2 linked regions of the Homo sapiens genome follow. The main gene of each other region encodes a partner of the protein of the gene in region 2 in a complex. Each region holds a gene or a part of one and is shown on either strand. Other genes may lie near its edges. The genes, in order: SLC3A2 and SLC7A10.

What was found.
Region 1: the proteins of SLC7A10 (region 2) and SLC3A2 are in contact, whole or in part, in a cryo-EM structure (PDB 8WNT), measured with the Homo sapiens proteins. Residues at the interface, in NP_062823.1 of Homo sapiens: Leu147, Val150, Phe151, Asn153, Cys154, Pro157, Ala160, Val163, Leu164, Met166, Ala167, Met170, Leu171, Trp174, Ser352, Val359, Glu481, Thr484, His485, Trp486, Gln488, Glu489, Leu490, Phe492, Val493, Val494, Tyr495, Gln497; in NP_002385.3 of Homo sapiens: Phe161, Thr162, Gly163, Leu164, Lys166, Leu169, Leu170, Val172, Ala173, Trp178, Arg182, Leu186, Phe189, Trp190, Trp193, Met196, Leu197, Ala200, Ile203, Ile204, Ala207, Pro208, Arg209, Cys210, Arg211, Glu212, Leu213, Arg534.

Annotation. Positions count from the first base shown.
Region 1 is NC_000011.10:62,874,913-62,884,403, reverse strand, and holds the start of SLC3A2 (amino acid transporter heavy chain SLC3A2), read right to left. Parts: upstream 3,509-9,491; 5' UTR 3,386-3,508; coding exon of another isoform or gene 3,381-3,385; coding exon 2,957-3,380; intron 2,706-2,956; exon of another isoform or gene 2,512-2,705; coding exon 2,338-2,511; intron 1,497-2,337; coding exon 1,405-1,496; intron 416-1,404; exon of another isoform or gene 292-415; intron 1-291. UniProt on the Homo sapiens protein: Acts as a chaperone that facilitates biogenesis and trafficking of functional transporters heterodimers to the plasma membrane.
Region 2 is NC_000019.10:33,222,409-33,231,009, forward strand, and holds the start of SLC7A10 (asc-type amino acid transporter 1), read right to left. Parts: upstream 3,443-8,601; 5' UTR 3,420-3,442; coding exon of another isoform or gene 3,296-3,419; coding exon 3,145-3,295; intron 1-3,144. UniProt on the Homo sapiens protein: Associates with SLC3A2/4F2hc to form a functional heterodimeric complex that translocates small neutral L- and D-amino acids across the plasma membrane. Preferentially mediates exchange transport, but can also operate via facilitated diffusion.

The sequences.
Region 1 (9,491 bases), on a different chromosome or scaffold from region 2:
GAAAATTCCAGCCCACACTAAACCTCACCCACCACACACTTCCCCGGGAGCTGGGGAGAGTCCTGTGCCTTGCCTGGGTCTTCCCCACCTGCACTACAAAGGCTTAGCCTTTGGACCCCTCCAGCTCTACCCTTCCACTCATTTTCTTAGTGCTACAGCATTTTACTTCTCATTCTTGCCTCTGGCAAATCACACAGCTTCAACTTTGAAAGCCACAGAAAAGGCCCCAGAGAAAAGGTATGTCCATAAACATAACTTCGTTTAACACTTAGCATTGGAATGTTAGCATACCTATTTTAGAGATGAAGAAACAGACCCAGAGAAGCAGGGAGACGCGTCCACAGTCATAATCAGTGAGCAGCAGACAGGATCTAAAATGTCAGTCAAGATCCCCCCTCTCCCAGTTTCCTGAGGCCTGGGGAAGGTGTGAGTACAATAACTGCTCAGAGCAAGGCCAAGGATGAAAGATTGAAATTCAAAGCATAGCCCCAGGGCAGTTTAGATTTGAAAAGAGGCCAGTGCTGCTGAATGGAATCCTGGCAGTCCTGCACACACTGTGGAACTTCACCCCCATTCTCCTTTTCTTCCCTTTCTCTGGGCCATGTACTCTCTCCTCTGGTCTCCATTTCCATCTGAGGGTACCGCCCCTCATGCCAAACCATCCAAAAACATTCCCTCATCAGCAACTTTTAAAGGGTCCCCTAGTAACTGGCAAGGCCTAAACTGGATGATCCCGGGGTCCTACCCAAATGCTGGGAGTCCAGAATTCTATCTTAGAATCACAGCTACCAGCAGTGTCAGTATCTGCTTCCATTTTTGTTCTACCCATTCTGAACAGGTCAGTGTCCTAGGACCCAGACATCAGGAGCTAGGTGACATTCAAAGCCCTACTCCTAGCCTGCTGGGTACACATTTGAACCTATGGCAAATTATATACCTTGTATGGTTATACAGAGAATTAGAAAACATCTATAAAATACTTGGCATAGAGTCCCAGACACATAGGAGTACCCCAGTGCTTATAATTTCAGACTGGGCTCTATTCCAAACACATCAAACAAGAACTGGGAAACCAGTCAGGACAGGATTCTCACAGAGAAAGGGCTTCCTCTCCCAAAAGAAAGAAAAATCAAACTTCCAGACTGACTTCTGAGAAGGTCCCTTCCTGGCACTGTCTCATCCTCAGAGTCAAGGAAATAAGAAAAATAAGAGGTCAGAAAAGGAACAAGAAAAACAGGTGTGCTATTGGCCTATCCTTTGGCTATAGGAGGAGGCATTCCTCCTTGGTCCTAAGGAGCAAAGGGACCCTCAGCTGGAGTCAGGCTGGGTCTACAGGGCTTGCTGTGAAAGGACTGTCCCAGCCCCAGCATCTGACTTCCACCAGCCATCAGCTCCAACACTCACCTTCACCTTGGTGGCCACAGTGTCAACCTGAGTGGAGAACCACGAGTTCTCACCCCGGTAGTTGGGAGTAAGGTCCAGAATGACACGGATGCCTAAAACAACGGAGGAAGACGCAATCATGAGACAGTCTATGAGTTAAGGGAAAATAAGGAAATCACAAATGCAAGTCACTGAGTGTTTCCTATGTATTACTTGGTACAAAAGCTTGAATTTGAACCCGGGCAAAATTCATTCCATTGAAACAGATGTGAGCAAGGAAGGGCCTTAAGATATGGGAAGGCAGGCCAGGCGAGTTCAAAACCAGACCGGTCAACATGTTGAAAATTGTCTCTACTAAAAATAAAAAAATTATCTGGGTGTGGTGGCACACGGCTGTAGTACCAGCTACTCAGGAGGCTGAGGCACGAGAATCGCTTGAACCCTGGGGGAGGAGGCTGCAGTAAGCTGAGATCGTTCCACTGCACTGCAGCCTGGGTGACAAGAGTGAGACTCCATCTCAAAAAAAAAAAAAGATATTGGAAGGCAGAAAGTTTATAGTGCAGAGAAGTGGCCCCTGTGTTCCCCACTCCCAAAGTGAACCTTTTTAAACATGTGTCTATATCGAGTCGTAAAACAATATTTGGGATTCCCCCCCCCCAAAAAAACCTACTGTTTTACAAGTTTAAAACCACTGGTTTAGTAAATATCTATATTTTGCAAATAAGGGCACTGAAGCCCAGAAGTTAAATGACCTGCTCAAGATTCCACAGCCAAGTAGAAAGCCCCCAGACGACTGGACAAATCCATTTTAGGCTGAAGACTAACAAATCTCCCCTCTACCTGCCCTAGGAAAACTCAGAGCCAGTTAGCAGGAAACCAGACAAAAGTTCTAGCCTACTTTTCCTCTGGCCAAGTCCTTTCTAGCTGTTTCCTTGGGAACCCCAGGATACCCACTCTTTTTTTTAGCCGATTGCAAGAGACTGTCAAAATCTTCCTTGGAGCCAAAATTGGGGTCGATCTGCAGCAAGTCAGTCTGAGCGACATCATCCTTCTGGTTCTTGTGAATTGGACCCAGCACAAGGCCCTTCACCTTCAGAGAGCTCAGGTAATCGAGACGCCCCTTCAGACCTGAAATGGGGGCTGGGTTAACAAGTGAGGCCCCTCTGAGAGGCCCCTGACCTCCCCACCCTCCCTTCTCCCAGCGCCTAAGGGTGGGACGGGGAGGGGGCAAAGGGGGAGAGAGGGAGGCAAGGCTGAATCACGAGACTCAGAGGAGCTGATGTAAGGAGTCCTGCACATTACTTCAGAAACCGGTTGCAACTGGCTTCTGGCGCCGCGGGGAAGGAGGACGCTGAGTCACCCACCCTCGTGACGGAGTGAGGGGCGGGTCGGCTTTCTTCAAAGAAAGGAGGGAAGGACAATGTGCCGGGGAGGGGGTGGGGGAAGGGGGAACAGTCGTCGGTACGGGATGGAGGGAAGAACCATCTAGATCCGTCTGGGGACAGGGGAGGGGGTCGGTGCAAGCCACCAGATTCAACCGGAGGTACCCGGGACGGGGGCGCGCTGCACTCACCCGCCAGGTTGCCCGCGCCGTGGCCCTGGAAGGCCTGAAGGTCGCCGATGCGGTAGAGGGCGCCCGTGTGCCACCACTTCTGCGCCGGTAGCTCGCGACAACGCGGCGCTCGCACGATTATGACCACGGCACCAGCAAGCATGCCGAGCCAGCCGAGCCAGAAGAGCAGCAGCAGTGCCCAGCGGGTGCGTACCCAGCCGGGGCTGCCTGCCACCTTCAGCAGCTCCTCCTTGGACAGGCCCGTGAACTTAGCCGCGGCTGCCGCCTCCGCCTCGTCTTCCGCCACCTTGATCTTCACCAGACCATTCTTCTCGGCTCCCGCCAGGGACATGGCCGCCCCAGACGCCGCGTTCATCGGCTGCTTCTCGGGCTCTAACTCATTCAGCTCCACCTCCTTCATATCCACCTCGGTGTCCTGGCTCATGGTGCCTGCAGAACCGGCGACACGACGCAGCTTGCGGTCAGATGGTGGCTCAACCCCTACCTGGACCCTCGGACCCAGAACGCTCTCCCCGGCCTCTGTGCCTCCGCGCAGTTTCGGCTACTGCATCTGCTCAGCAGCAGGCGCGGCCTCTGGGAAGGGGCAGCGGAGCCCCGCCCCGGCCCGCCCCTTAAGGTGGAACCTCGGGGACTGCCCCAGCCGTGGGCGGCTCAGGGTAGTAAAGTCAGGAACACGCCTCCGACAGTACTTCCTGCATGGTCCAATTTCTCATCTCCAACCTGTCTAACCCTAAAGTTCTTTTCAACCTGATTCTGGGAAGGCCTGGCACGGAGCCACCTTTAAGTGGACTAGGCCTGTGATCCTGCCCCAAATCCCGAGGCCCCTCCAGTGTCCTTTAGGCCTTACCGCCCCCAAACGCCCCTCTTCTTCCATTCCGGCAGGCTAGTGACTACCCCAACACCATCCTCCATTTGCCCCTGGTTCACGGCTCCGGCCGCCGTCTGGTTTTCCCAACTTTGCATGGCTACTTGCACTCTCAGAGGCAGCCAGTCACAACTTCTGCCTTTTCCCCCACCAAGGCTTGCCCTCTCAGGCCTCTGGGACTTGGCGCTAGACCTCTGCTAGACCTCTGCTTCCGTGCACGGCTTACTCCCACTCGTTTTTCAAGACTCATCTTGAATTCATTTCAAGAAATTCCTCATGCAGCAACTATTTATTGTGTACTCACTACAATACTTTGCTTTGTTAACTTTATTGAATTTAACACTAATCCAGCCTTCTTCACAGTACTTTAAAATGAATGGTTTGGGCAGGAAGGTTGAGGTAGACACCCCCCTTCTTATCCTACCCCACCCCCAGCTGCTAGCACCTGGATGTTTGGCAGCTAGGAATCAGACATCCAGAAGAGACTGATAGGGCTGTAATGAACATAACAGAGCTAGGTCTCAGAGGCATCCACCTTTTTTGTGGAATAGACCAGAAGATGCCATGGCCAGACTCTTACCCACCTTGCAGGAACTCCCACAGTTATCCCCAAACTCCCCCAAGGTCCTGTCTCCCTATCACTTCACTATGTTAGGCCTTGGAGGCAGCTGGTACTGCAGAGGCTTTGAAGAAGCCTAGAATTCCCTCCACAGGGTCCTTGGATTGAAGTGGGGCAGAGACAGGGTTCACAGCAGGGAACTACCGGACATCAACACCGTGGGGTGCCAACACTCTCAGGAACTCCTTGTTCCTAAACAGTGCCAGTTGGGCTACTTTCAGAGAGGAGCTGGAGGAAATCGGTTCTTTCTCCCTTTCCCACCTAGGCTGGAAGCCAAGATTGCTGTGTATTTGGAAGAAAGCAAAAGCCAAGATCTGAAGTAATAGCATAGAGAAAAGGGTCACCCTCTGCTAGTCCCCTCTGCAACCCCAGGCATCCAACCCCATCCCCACCCTAGGAACAAGGGGTGCACGGGGCAGCCCCTGGGAGAAGGCAAGCAAGTGGGTTCAGACCAGTGCTCAAAGATAATAAGAGATCCAAGGTGCCCTGCATGTGCCAGATAAGAAGTGCCAACCAGAGGTTCTGAATGGACTATATCTCGAGCACAAAAGCTCAAGGCTGGGCGCAGTGTGACTCATGCCTGTCACCTAGCCCTTTAGGAGGCCAAGGAGGGAGGATTCCTTGAGGCCAGGAGTTTAAGACCAGACGGGGCAACATAGTGAGACTCCATTTCTAAATAAATAAAAAAATAAATTTTAAAATTATCTGGGCCTGGCTGGGTGTGGTGGCTCACACCTGTAATCCCACCTACTAATCCCTGTAATCCCACTTCTCATGCTGTGGCATGAGAATCGCTTGAACCCAGGAGGTAGAGGTTGCAGTGAGCCAAGAATGGGCCACTGCACTCCAGTCTGGGTGATAGAGCAAGACTCTGCCTCAAAAAAACTAACAGGCCAGGTGTGGTGGCTGACACCTGTAATCCCAGCACTTTGGGAGGCTGAGGGTGGCGGATAACTTGAGGTCAGGAGTTCGTGACCAGCCTGGCCAACATGGTGAAACCCCATCTCTACTAAAAATACAAAAATTAACTGGACATAGTAGCACACGCCTGTAGTCCCAGACTTGGAGGGGTGAGGCATGAGAATCGCTTGAACCCGAGAGGCAGAGGTTGCAGTGAGCCAAGATTGCGCGGCTGCACTCCAGCCTGGGTGACAGAGTGAGACTCTGTCTCAAAAAAGAAAAAAAAAGGCCAGGCGTGGTGTCTCACACCTGTAATACCAGCACTTTGGGAGGCCGAGGCAGGTGGATCAAGAGGTCAGGAGACCGAGACCATCCTGGCTAACACAGTGAAACCCCGTCTCTACTAAAAATGCAAAAAAAAAAAAAAAAAATCAGCCAGGCGTGGTGGCGGGTGCCTGTAGTCCCAGCTACTTAGGAGGCTGAGGCAGGAGAATGACGTGAACCTGGGAGGCGGAGCTTGCAGTGAGCCAAAATCGCGCCACTGCACTCCAGCCTGGGATACAGAGCAAGACTCCGTCTCAAAAAAAAAAAAAATTATCATCTGTAATTGGTGATGTGCCCCTGGAGTCCCATGAGATGCCAACACTCAAGGGAAGCAAAAGCAGGAGGATCACTTGAGTCCAGGAGTTTGTGAGGCTGCAGTGAGCCATGGTGGCACCACTGCATACCAGCCTAGGAGACAGAGCGAGACCCTGTCTCTAAAAATAAGTAAGAACAAGGTTGAGAACTGTGGGGTCAGAAGCTGTCTTTGAGATGGTCCAACATGACACAGTATCTCACTCACAGATCCTCATGGCTCCAAATGGCTGAAGTCAATTCCTTTTGTTTTTTGTTTTTTTTTTTTTGAGACAGGGTCTCACACTGTCACCCAGCATGGAGTGCAGTGGCGCGATCTCAGCTCACTGCAACCTGTGCCTCTCAGGTTCAAGCGATTCTTCTTCCTGAGCCTCCCCAGTAGTTGAGATTATAGGAGGCGTGCACCGCCACACCCGGCTAATTTTGTATTTTTAGGAGAGACAGGGTTTCACCATGTTGGCCAGGCTGGTCTTGAACTCCTAACTTCAGGTGATCTGCCCGCCTCAGCCTCCCAAAGTGCTGGGATTACAGGCATGAGCCACTGTGCCCAGCCTGAAGTCAATTCCTTCTGCATGCATAAAGAGGATAACAGCTTGCCTCTCCAATCTTATCAGCCACCACCTGCTTCACAGGCACTAGCCTCCAGCCACATCAGCCTTCAAACACCTGCCAGACTCACAACACACCAGGCTTTTTCAGGCAGAGCTCTGCATCTTGTACATGCCATACCTCTGCTGTTGGCCCTTCCTGTTTGTCCACTCAACCTCATGAGTTCCTATTCATTCAAGATCTAGCTCAAGTGACAGCTTTTCTCAACTCCCCAGACAAAATTACTTTCCCTCCACCATGCATCTGCCTCTGCTACAATCATGTCCCATTTGTTTATTACATTTGTTTGTCTGGATGTCTCTTTGTCCTTGAAGACAAGTGGCAGGAGCCTTGTGCTATTGTGGACGAACCTGCCTATTCGGAGGCAGCATATAGTAGGCACTTCGCAAGTGTTTGGTAAATAAGTGGATGAACTATGTCAATCAAAACCAATATCTCCCTTCTTAGAAACAACTAAACAGGCTAGGCACGGTGGATCACACCTGTAATCAGCACTTTGGGAGACCAAGGCAGGCAGATCAATTGAGGTCAGGAGTTCAAGACCAGCCTGGCCAACATGGTGAAACGCTGTCTCTACTAAAAATACAAAAATTAGCCAGGCGTGGTGGTGGGCACCTGTAATCCCAGCTACTCCGGAGGCTGAGGTGAGAGAATCACTTGAACCCAGGAGGCAGAGGTTGCAGTGAGCCCAGATCGCACCACTGTACTGCAACCTGGACAACACAGCAAGACTATCTCTCAAAAAAAAAAAAAAAGAAAAGGAAGAAGAAAAAAGAAACAACTGAAAAAAACTAGCATGTGAAGACAAAGGCAGGAAAATGAAAAGGAATTTAAATAACGCTGTATCATATCAAGATAAACCTGTTGCTGCAGGAAAACAAACCAAGACTTGTAACTGTTCAACCAAAATAAAACAAACTGCCAGGCACTGTGGCTCACCTGTAATCCCAGCACTTCCGGAGGCCGAGGCAGTCGGATCAATTGAGGTCAGGAATTCAATATCAGCCTGGCTAACATGGTGAAACCCCGTTTCTACTAAAAATACAAAAATTAGCCAGGTATGGTGGTGCGTGCCTGTAATTTCAGCTACTCAGGAGGCTGTGGCAGACAAATCACTTGAACCCATGAGGCAGGGATTGCAGTGAGCCAAGATCGCGCCATTGCACTCCAGCCTGGGCAACAAGAGCAAAACTCTGTCTCAAAAAAATAATATAAAATATAATAATAAAACTAATAAATTAGGAGATGGAGGACAGGAAAACAAAAAGACTACAGAGAAAAGACTAGAGAAATGGACCAGAGGTGAGTAAAGAGCCTCAGATCCTGCCATATGTGTTGATATAAAGCTTAATATTTACTATAGGAACACAAAGAATATAATTTTTCAAGAATTTAGCCTTCAAGAGAAGGCTGGGCAAAGCAAAGGAAAAAAAGCAGTTTGGCAGCCCAGATGCCAATAAGGTCCACTTTACACTCAGACAGACAGATGGCGGTGGAGCCCTGAAATGCAGGGGGCCAAGTATATAAAGAAAGTTCCTTTCTAACCCTCTGCTGCAAAAATCCATGTCACATGCTTCCTAACACATGAGGATTATTACTTGATCTTAGCCTGAAAACAGGACATTTATTTTTCCTCAAACATGTAAAAAGGATTGACCAGGCACAGCAGCTCATGCCTTTAATCCCAGCGCTCTGGGAAGCTAAGGCAGGAGGATCACTTAAGCCCAGTAGTTTGAGACCAGCCTCGGCAACATAGGGAGACCCCATCTCTACAAAAATTAACAAATTAGCCAGGCATGGTGGCTCACCCCTGTGGTCCCAGTTACTAAGGAGGCTGAAGTGGGAGGATCACTTGAGCCCTCAGGTTGAGGCAGCAGTGAGCTGTGATCACAATCACACCATTGCATTCCAGCCTGGCTGACAGGGTGACCCTATCTGAAAACAAACAAACAGGCTGGGCGCAGTGGCTCATGCCTGCAATCCCAGCACTTTGAGAGGCTGAGGCGGGCGGATCACCTGAGGTCAGGAGTTTGAGACCAGCCTGGCCAACGTGGTGAAACCCCATCTCTACTAAAAATACAAAAATGAGCTGGGCATGGTGGTGGCTGCCTGTAATCCCAGCTACTCAGGAGGCTGAGGCAGGAGAATCGCTTGAACCTGGGAGGCAGAGGTTGCAATGGGCCCAGATCGTGCCATTGCACTTCAGCCTGGGCAACAAGAGCAAAACTCCATCTCGAAAAATAAACAAACAACTAAAAACATCTAAGAAGGACTTTTTTTTTTGAGATGAAGTCTCGCTCTGTCGCCCAGGCTGGAGTACAGTGGTGCGATCTCAGCTCACTACAAGCTCTGCCTTCCAAGGTTCACACTATTCTCCTGCGGACTCCAGGTGCCCACCACCACGCCCAGCTAATTTTGATTTTTTTGTGTATTTTTAGTAGAGACGGGGTTTCACCATGTTAGCCAGGATGGTCTTGATCTCCTGATCTCGTGATCCACTCGCCTCGGCCTCCCAAAGTGCTGGGATTACAGGCGTGAGCCACCGTGCCCGGCCACATCTAAGAAGGATTTCTAAAGGCAGAGAGAAGATGGGAGGACAGCTAGAAACTCTTCAGGAGACTGTCTCTGTCCAACAGCCTCCATAAATCTTCGAAAGCCCAAGACTCTATTCCAAAGACCCAGAAACAAAACATCAAAGCTGCCTCTAAAATACCAATCAGCCAGAAATCTTGAAGATTTTAGCCATTTGAAAAATGAGGCCAGTGTGGTGGCTCATGCCTGTAATCCCAGCATTTTGGAAGAATGAGGCGGGCAGATCATTTGAAGTCAGGAATTCGAGACCAGCTTGGCCAACATGGCAAATCCCCATCTCTACTAAAAATACAAAAATTAGTCGCACACGATGG
Region 2 (8,601 bases):
AATATAAAATAAAATATAAAATAAAATAAAATAAAATAAATAAAATAAAATAAAATAAATAAAATAAAATAAAATAAAATAAAATAAAATAGGCACTGGACTGGGAACAGAGCCCAAATCTGGTTCCAAATCCTGAGCCTACCCCTTGGAGCAGTATCATTTCACTTCCAACCTTAGTTTCCACTCTGTAAAATGGGTATAAAAATTCCTACCTTGCAAGGTGGGCATGAGATTCAAATGAGATAAAGGAAGAACATGTTTTCATAAGGCAGTAAGAGGTGTTTTTCTGAACAGATATTGGATGTGATGATGTCCTGCAGAGCCCCTGCCCCAGCCAGTTCTATTTCCTCCAGCCTGGCCGATTCCCTTCCATCTGTGCTTGCAGTGGCCGGCGGGCACTGCCCTAAACACACTATACATGAGTCTCACGCCAGCCCATAGCCCACCCTTCCAGGTCTTCCCATTCTCAAAAGCCTCAATTCCCAGTCTGAGCTGGAGCAGAGGGTATACACGAGGGAGAGAGTGACAGGATCTCCTAGGAGGGTCGCTGTGGAAGTTTTGGAAATAACATGTTCAATAACAATAACAAACCAAGGTAGATTATGAAGCAGGACGTTGGCTGGGCAGGGTGGCTCACACCTGTAATCCCAGCACTTTGGGAGGCCAAGGCAGGCAGATCACTTGAGGTTAGGAGTTCGAGACCAGCCTGGCCAACATGGTGAAACTCTGTCTCTACTGAAAATACAAAAATTAGCTGGACATGGTGGTGTGTGCCTGTAATCCTAGCTACTTGGGAGGCTGACGCAGGAGAATTACTTGAACCCCGGAGGTGGAGGTTGCAATGAGCTGAGATTGTGCCACTGCACTCCAGCCTAGGGGACACAGCCAGACTCTGTCTCAGAAAAAAAAAAAAAAAAAAAGAAAGAAAAAGAAAGGAAAGGAAAGGAAGCAGGACGTCAAGTTCTTGACTTTTAGAGCTAAAATATGACACTTTGCAGACATTTTTGATTCTGACCAGGCTCCCCAGGGTATTGGTGGAGAGAGAGTGAGCCCACCTGGGGCAGAAAGGTGGGGTGGGCTGGGGAGGGGAGACCCTTAGTACATCAGGTGGGGAAGGCAGTGCAGACCCCAGCTCAGTCCTCACCTGCCCAGTCCCCACCTCCTATCACCTTCTGGTTGAGGTTGATCTCCTTGTTTTTTCCTGCCTCGTCCAGCCTCCTGCCTGCTGTAATCCTCAAAGGCTCCCCGGGCCAGGCCAAGATCAAGGCTCCCCAAGACCACCACTGAGTGCCCCGGGCTTGGGTTCTGTAGCTGAATCCAGCATCCTTGGTTAGCTAAGTGGCCCTTCACCCTGGCTCAGTGTTCAAGGTTTGGAGGCCAAGGTAGTGGACCTGGCACAGCAGGAAGGAACTGAAGGGTAGGGGAGCTGTCAGGGCAGACCTGGGCTGCATGGGAAACTTACAGAGTCTGTCCTGGAAAAGGAGGGTGATAGTGGAGTTGGCCTTCTCCACTCCCACCACCACCACCTCTACCATCACCACCACCACCACCACCACCACCACCACCACCACCACCACCACCAGGGCCCCTTTCTGGGGAGAAAGGAGCCAGGCAGCCTCCCTGTGGCCTGGGGAGGATGGGATGTGGGGAGGGGATAGAGTAGGAAGACAGGTCAAGGATGCTGGGCTTAGCTGAGGAGCCCAGGCAGAGCTGTGTCTTTCTGCACCTGCCTGGCACTGTAGCTGGTTCTAGGCATGGTCTCAATCCTATGACCCACTCATGGTGTGAGCTTCCCCTTCCCTGGAGGACAGTTCCTGGAGAGGGTGTGGGCCAAGAAAAAGCTCTAACCAGCACCCTGGCCAAATCCCTGGAACCAGCCCTTCCTTCCAGCAGACCGTCCATCAGGCAGGGGCATCCTAGGCCAAGAAGCTCCCAGGGCCAGGTCAGGACCAGGCTCTGGGAGACAGCATTCTAAGGGGAGGGGGTGAGATGGCGGAGTGACCTGGCCAGGGGCTGTGTTCAGGGGCAACTCTGGATGTGAAGAGCTGCTAATGTGGGGGTGGGAGAGGACGAGGTGAAGACCCTGGGTCTGCCCTACTGAGCCCCCAAACTTTCTCCATCTCCAGGGGTCTGAGGGTGGGAAGGCAGTGAAGACACAAGTGGCTCTCACTGGCAGGGGACCGGGAAGACTGGCTGGCGGTAAGGTGAGAACAGTCGAGGCCCCAGTCACTCACCCCCCAAACCACTTCTCCTGTCCCTCCCTGGAGGGGCTCAGAGGCACTCTGTGTAGACAAAGAAACAAGTCAGTATCCATGACTTGGGACAGAGAGTGGAAAAATACCACTGCCATTCCCATGACCTCTGAGCTCTCTGCCTGCCCAGAAACCCCTATGTGGGGGCAGGACATGGACCCATTCTCAGGTGGGGACTTTGGAGTCCAGGGCCTCCAGACCAGGCGAGTGTCCAGTGCCCACCAGGATCCCAGCTCAGGGAGCAGCTGGCCTTCTGCAGGCTGGGTCTGCCCACTGCTGCCCCCAATTGCTGGCTAACCCGCCCCCTCTCCTGGGTCCTGCTGCCAAACCCTGCAGTCATTGCCTGCTCTGAACCTCCGTCCCTTCTGCGCAGGCTGCGCTTGCTCACTCTGCTCATAGGCCCTCCTGCTTTCCAAGAATAAAGTCACTGCACTGCGTGGCACCTGGACCCTGCACACAGTAGGTACTCAGACTGACCCACAGTACAGAACTTGGGGAGCTCAGCCTGCCGCAGCCTGACCAGCCCCTACACTGGTCAAGTTCCTGCGCTAATCGCAGGACTGCAGTCATGGCCATTTCACAGATGAGGAAACTGAGGGTAACTGCCTTGCAAAAGCCCCGCAGCAAAATCGAGTCAGGAGGAAGAGTCCAGCGGTGGAGGGGACCCAAAACTCCCCCAGGTGCAGGCGGCCGGGAGGTGGGAACACGGAGCTTTGGCACCCTGGGCCAGCAGCCCCTGACCTCCCCGCGGTCATAGCGCTCTCTGAGGCCAGACTGCAGGTTCCCCAGGCAGACCCGTCCGAGCGCCCGGAGAGGGGACGCCCCTCGTTCGGAGCGGCTGCGCCCCTCATTCGGCCTCCGCCCGGCGCCCGCCCGCCTGGGTCCCGCTCACCGATGATGATGGTGCAGGCGCTCAGCAGCCCGATCTCCTTCTTGAGCGCCACCCGCTCCGAGGCGCCGGGGACGGTCCCTGGGACTGGGGAGGGCGAGGGCGCAGGCCTGGGGTTCCCGCGCCCGCTCGGCTGCTGCGTGTGGCCGGCCATGTCGCTGTCCCGCCGCGTCCCCGCTCCCTGCGCTGCCCCGTCTGTCCGGCCGGCCGCCCGTCGGTCCGTCGGTCCGTGAGCTCACGGCCCTCGCAGCCGGGACAGCGCCCACAGGCGGGCGCATGCGCTGGCTCCGGGCCCGGGACTGGGGGCCCCGGGCGGCGGGGGCCCGGGAGGGGCGGAAGGAGGGCCGGCCCACAGCCCCCTCCCCCACCTCCCTTAAAGGGAACGCCCCCTCCCCCAGTCCCGGCCTGGGAAGGAAGGAGAGGACTTGGGGCAGATCTAGGAAGGACTTCCCAGTTGGGCGAAGGAAGGGACCCTCCAGTTGCCTGAGTTACATCCATTCTTGGGGCCGGGTTGGGGAGCAGAGCTCCGAGACAAGACAATCCCTGCTCTCAGGGAGGCCGAGGGGGACGGCAAGAATAACAGCTGGCCGCGTGTGGGGATGCAGTGTGTGCTCCCTTTAGTACTCTATGCCTGCACGATGTGTGTGTGTGTGTGTGTGTGTGTGTGTGTGTGTGTGTGTGTGTAGGAGACAGCTCCCAGGGTGAGTCCATTCTACAGGTGGAAGTTGAAGCCCAGAGATCAGTAGCGATCGCCGAGCAAGTGCAGGGCTGAGACCAAACCCTTTCTCGTGCCTCCTGAGGCTCCCAGGCGGACAACCTCAGGAGGGGTGGGGGTTGAGGTCTGGAACTCCTCTGAGGGGTCTGGGTGTCCTATGCACCCTGGATCAAAGGCCTGAGGGTCGAGGTGAAGATCCCGGGGGCTCTCATCCTCATCACGGGGACCCAAGACCTGTGACGAGTCCTGGACACGGCTCGCCCACCCTACCAGGCTCTGGGCCACCTCTGGCCTGAGATCTTCACTACAGGCTCCTCGTCCCAGGTCAGAGTGAGGGCTCAGCGGACTAGAACTCGGGTCTCTGGTGCAGGTCCCGCGCGATCCAGCCCGGCTCAAGAAGGCCAGGCGACCTGGAATGCCCGGGAGACACGGAGAAGGAGGCTGTGGTCGCGGGAGAGGGTCGGGAGTGCGGGGATCCGAGGGAGGCTGCCTCCTCCCGGAAGCCGTCCGGACTGTGCAGCCGAGGCCGGCGGAAAAGATCCAGGGGGGCCGCGTCGGGGCCACCGGGGCGGCGGGCGGGGCGAGCCTGGCACTGTGCGGCCGGCGGCGGAACAGCCTTTGTTTCTTCCTGGCGGCCGCCGCGACGCGCCGTCCCCTGCATGTGGATGAGGCCTCGCCGGGCGCCCCGTCCTTCCCCCCAGTGGCGGCCTCCGGGTTTGCTGGGGCCCTGCCAGGGGTCCGACGGCTGCAGGGTGGACCGGGGTGGGACGGGGCGGGGGCGGGTCCCTGGCAGGGGCGGGTCCCTGGCAGCGGCAGGGCCTGGAGGTGGGAGCGGGGCGGGGCCGGCGTTTGCAGGCACACAGGAGCTTCGAAGTTGGGGGCGGGGACTTGGGGTAGGAGTAGGAGCGGGAGGATCCAGGGTGGACGTGCTGGTGGGACGCCGAGGGGGAGGCCACCCGGCGAAGCTGCATCCCTCTCGCTTCTGTCGTCGGAGACCGGCATTCTTGGCGCCCTCCACCTCCAGCCCCAGAGACCATTCAGAGGCCGACTCTCTTAAAGGAGCCTCGCGCAGGGTAGGGGCAGCCCTGGCTCCGGAGACCCCTGATTGTCGCGGGTGTTAGGGGCCAGAGGCCTCGACCTTCTGGTTTGACTCTCCCCAGCCCCCCAGTTGCCCTCGCAATTCTAGGGTCTGCTGGGAGAGGGTCTAGCCAGGGCTGGTGCAATCAGGGGCAGCTTGCCAAGGGGCAGGGGCTGGCGCAAGCCTCGCAGCTCTGAAGCCTGTGGTTTTCGAGGGTGTCTCTCTGGGACCTGGAATGTGGAGTATGCGTTTGTGGGGGAAAGGTCGGCCTAGGGCTTTGCACAGGATGGAGTTTGTATGTTGTCAGCCAGGCCCCATAGCTCAGGAGGTCCTTTTCGTGGAATTGAACTAGAACCTGCAAATTTCAATGGGAACAAAAGGTTAGTAGGATTGGTTTACCATCCAAAAACCAATCAGCATGATTCTCCACATTAATAGAGAGAAAAAAGGAAAACCTCAACAGATGCAAAAAACAGTCATCCGTGATGTAAACAAACAACTCTTAGCAAATAGAAACAGAAGAGAACCTCCTTAATCTGATAAAAGTATCTACCTAAAAACAAATCTCCAAGAAACCAAGAAACAAACAAAAACCCTACAGCTGACATCATGTTTAGTGGTGAAAGTGTGAATGCTTTTCTACTGAGATTGAAAATGAGAAGGGATGTTGGCACTTGTCAATATTCTATACAATAGTGTACTGGAGGTCCTAGCCAGAGCAATAAGACAAGAAAAATAAGTAAAAAGGTATGAAGATAGTAAAGGGAAAGATAAAGCTGCCATTCACATATGATGTGATTCAGTATGTAGAAAAAAAATTACAGGTTAATTTAAGGAAGATAAGTTCATTTAGCAAAGTCGCTAGACAGAAGTTTAATATACAGAAACTAATTGTATTCTATATACTAGAAATAATTAGAAAATGAAATTAATAATAGCATAAAATCAAATACCTAAAAATAATTCTAGTGAATGATGTGTACAATTTTTATGCAAGAAACTACAAAACATTTCTGAGAGAAATTGTTAAAGACATAAGCTAATGGAGGGATATACCATGTTCATGGATTGGAATTTAAAATGTTGGTCTCCACATTGATTTATAGAATTGATAAATACATCCAATGTAATTTTGATCAAAGCACCAGACAACTTTGTTGTTGATTACAAGGCTTTTTTGGAGGGATGAAACTCAACAAGCTGATTCTAAAGAGTATGTGAAGAAGAACAAATCTGGAGGACTTATACTACAGTAAGGAAGACAGTGTGGCATTGATGCAAAGATAAACAAATCTACTGGTGGAAGAAAACAGAAATCCAGAAACAGACCCATCCTGGTTTATTATGACAAAGTTGATATTGCAGAACAGTGGAGAAAGGACGGGCTTTTCAATAAGTGGTGGTGGATCTATATATTGAAGAAAAAAACCAAAACCCTTTTAATGTCACCCTTCCATTATACCCTAAAACCAGTCCCAGGTGATGTACATGTGAAATGTACGTGTGAAAGGTGAAACATCAAAGCTGCTAGAAGAAAACTCAGGGGAGAGAATAGATACATTTTCTTAAACAGACATAAGAAACACAGTAAGAAAGTGACAGATTGGACTACATTAAGATTAGAAACTTCTGTCAGTCAAAAGACATGATTAAAGAGGAAAGAGTAAGCCACATATGAGAGAAGTTATTTCCATACATATGGCCGATAAAGGACTTCTATCTAAAAATATAAGCATATGAGTTGTATTGAAAAATATGTATCAAATCAATAGGAAAAAGTTTTAAAATAGGCCGGGCATGGTGGTTCATGCCTGTAACCCCAGCACTTGGGAAGGGCAAGGCAGGTGAATCACTTGAGGTCAGGAGTTCGAGACCAGCCTGGCCAACATGGTGAAACCCTGTCTCTACTAAAAATGCAGAGATTGGCCGGGGGTGGTGGTGAGTGCCTGTGGTCCCAGCTAGTCAGGAGGCCGAGGCAGGAGAATCGCTTGAACCTGCGAGGCGGAGGTTGAAGTGAGCTGAGATCATGCCACTGCACTCTAGCCTGGGCAACAGAGCGAGACTCCATCTCAAAAAAAAAAAAAAAAAAAAAAAAAACAAAGGACTTTAAATAGGTGCTTCCCAAAAGAGGATGTCCAATGACTGTTAAACTCCTGAACAGGCACTCAAACCTCATGGGCCATCAGGGAAATGCAAATTAAAACGAGAATAAGATACCACTGAGTAGCCACCAAAATGGTGAAAATTACACACCCAATGTTGGCAAGGATGTGGAGTTGGTACCACCAGTTTGGAAAACCATTTGGCAGTACCTCCAAATCCAGCATCTCCACTCTGTATTAGATGCCTCTTGGATATCACGCCACCTCCCCAGCCCCTAGCCTCACCTTGGTGTCAAGGCTTTGCCACCTTTCCTCCCACTTCAGGTGCAGGTACAACCTGCCAGCACCCCCCATCACCCTCAGGGATTCTCTGATGCCCCTGAGGAATGAGATAATAAGGGACCAATCTGGCACCCACAAACTTGCAATCAGAAATGCAGGAGAGTTAGCACACTCGGGCCTATCCTTGTGTTACTGAATGGTGCCACACAGTTCCAGGATCTGGGCGACTTGAACAAAGAATTGGAAGAGACATATACAGATAGCAAAAAGTGTATTAAGTGCAGTATTCCACTCTTGGAGAGGAAGAGTGGACTGATCTTTGTGAGATGAGATCGGCATTAGTTTGGTGTACTTTGGGTCTTTCTATATGTTGTTTTTTTCCCCCTCTTCCCAAGGCTGCCTAATCTCTAGCCAGTGTCTATCTTTTTGATTGACAGGTGTGTTGCTTAGTTACTTTGGCCCCCGTGCGCTTGCACCTTGCCTCCATCCCATAATCCTAAGTACATACATGATATGCAGCTCATATGCATGAACCTTAAGTAGCTGATTATCATAACGGGGTTATGTTAAGGATACCTTTTCTCTCCAATGCACATGCCCATCTCTGAAGCGCAGCCCCTTACTGGTTTGGTCAGGATCCTGCCGGCCATGGGATACTGCTCGCTTTTTTTTTTTTTTTTGAGACGGAGTCTCACTCTTGTCATCCAGGCTGGAGTGCGGTAGCGCAATCTCGGTGGCTCACTGCAACCTCTGCCTCCCGGTTCAAGCAATTTTCCTGCCTCAGCCTCCTGAGTAGCTGGTAATTAGAGGCGCCCACCACCACGCCCGGCTAATTTTTGTATTTTTAGTAGACAGTGGGTTTCACCATGTTGGCCAGGCTGGTCTTGAACCCCTGACCTCAGGTAATCCTCCCGCTTCAGCCTCCCAAAGTGCTGGGATTACAGGCATGAGCCACGGCACCCGGCCCTGCTCACTTTTTTATCTTACTTTTGTTTTGGCTGCTGAACCTCTGCTTTTTGTCTGGCTTCTTGCTCACCTGCCCCTTCACCTTGCTTCTTCTGCTCTCTGCTTTTACTTATTCTGCCCTTTATCCAACTTTCAATTCCCTTTGCTACTTTCCTGCCTCATTTTCCCTGTTCTCCTATCTCACTTGGACAATGGCAGATGGATAAATGGCAGATGGGAGTCAGTGGATAAATTCTTCCCTCTACCTCATCCCAGATGGACCCTTATGAATCATATTCCTTATAAAAACCTCTTGGAAGATGTTACTACAAGATTCA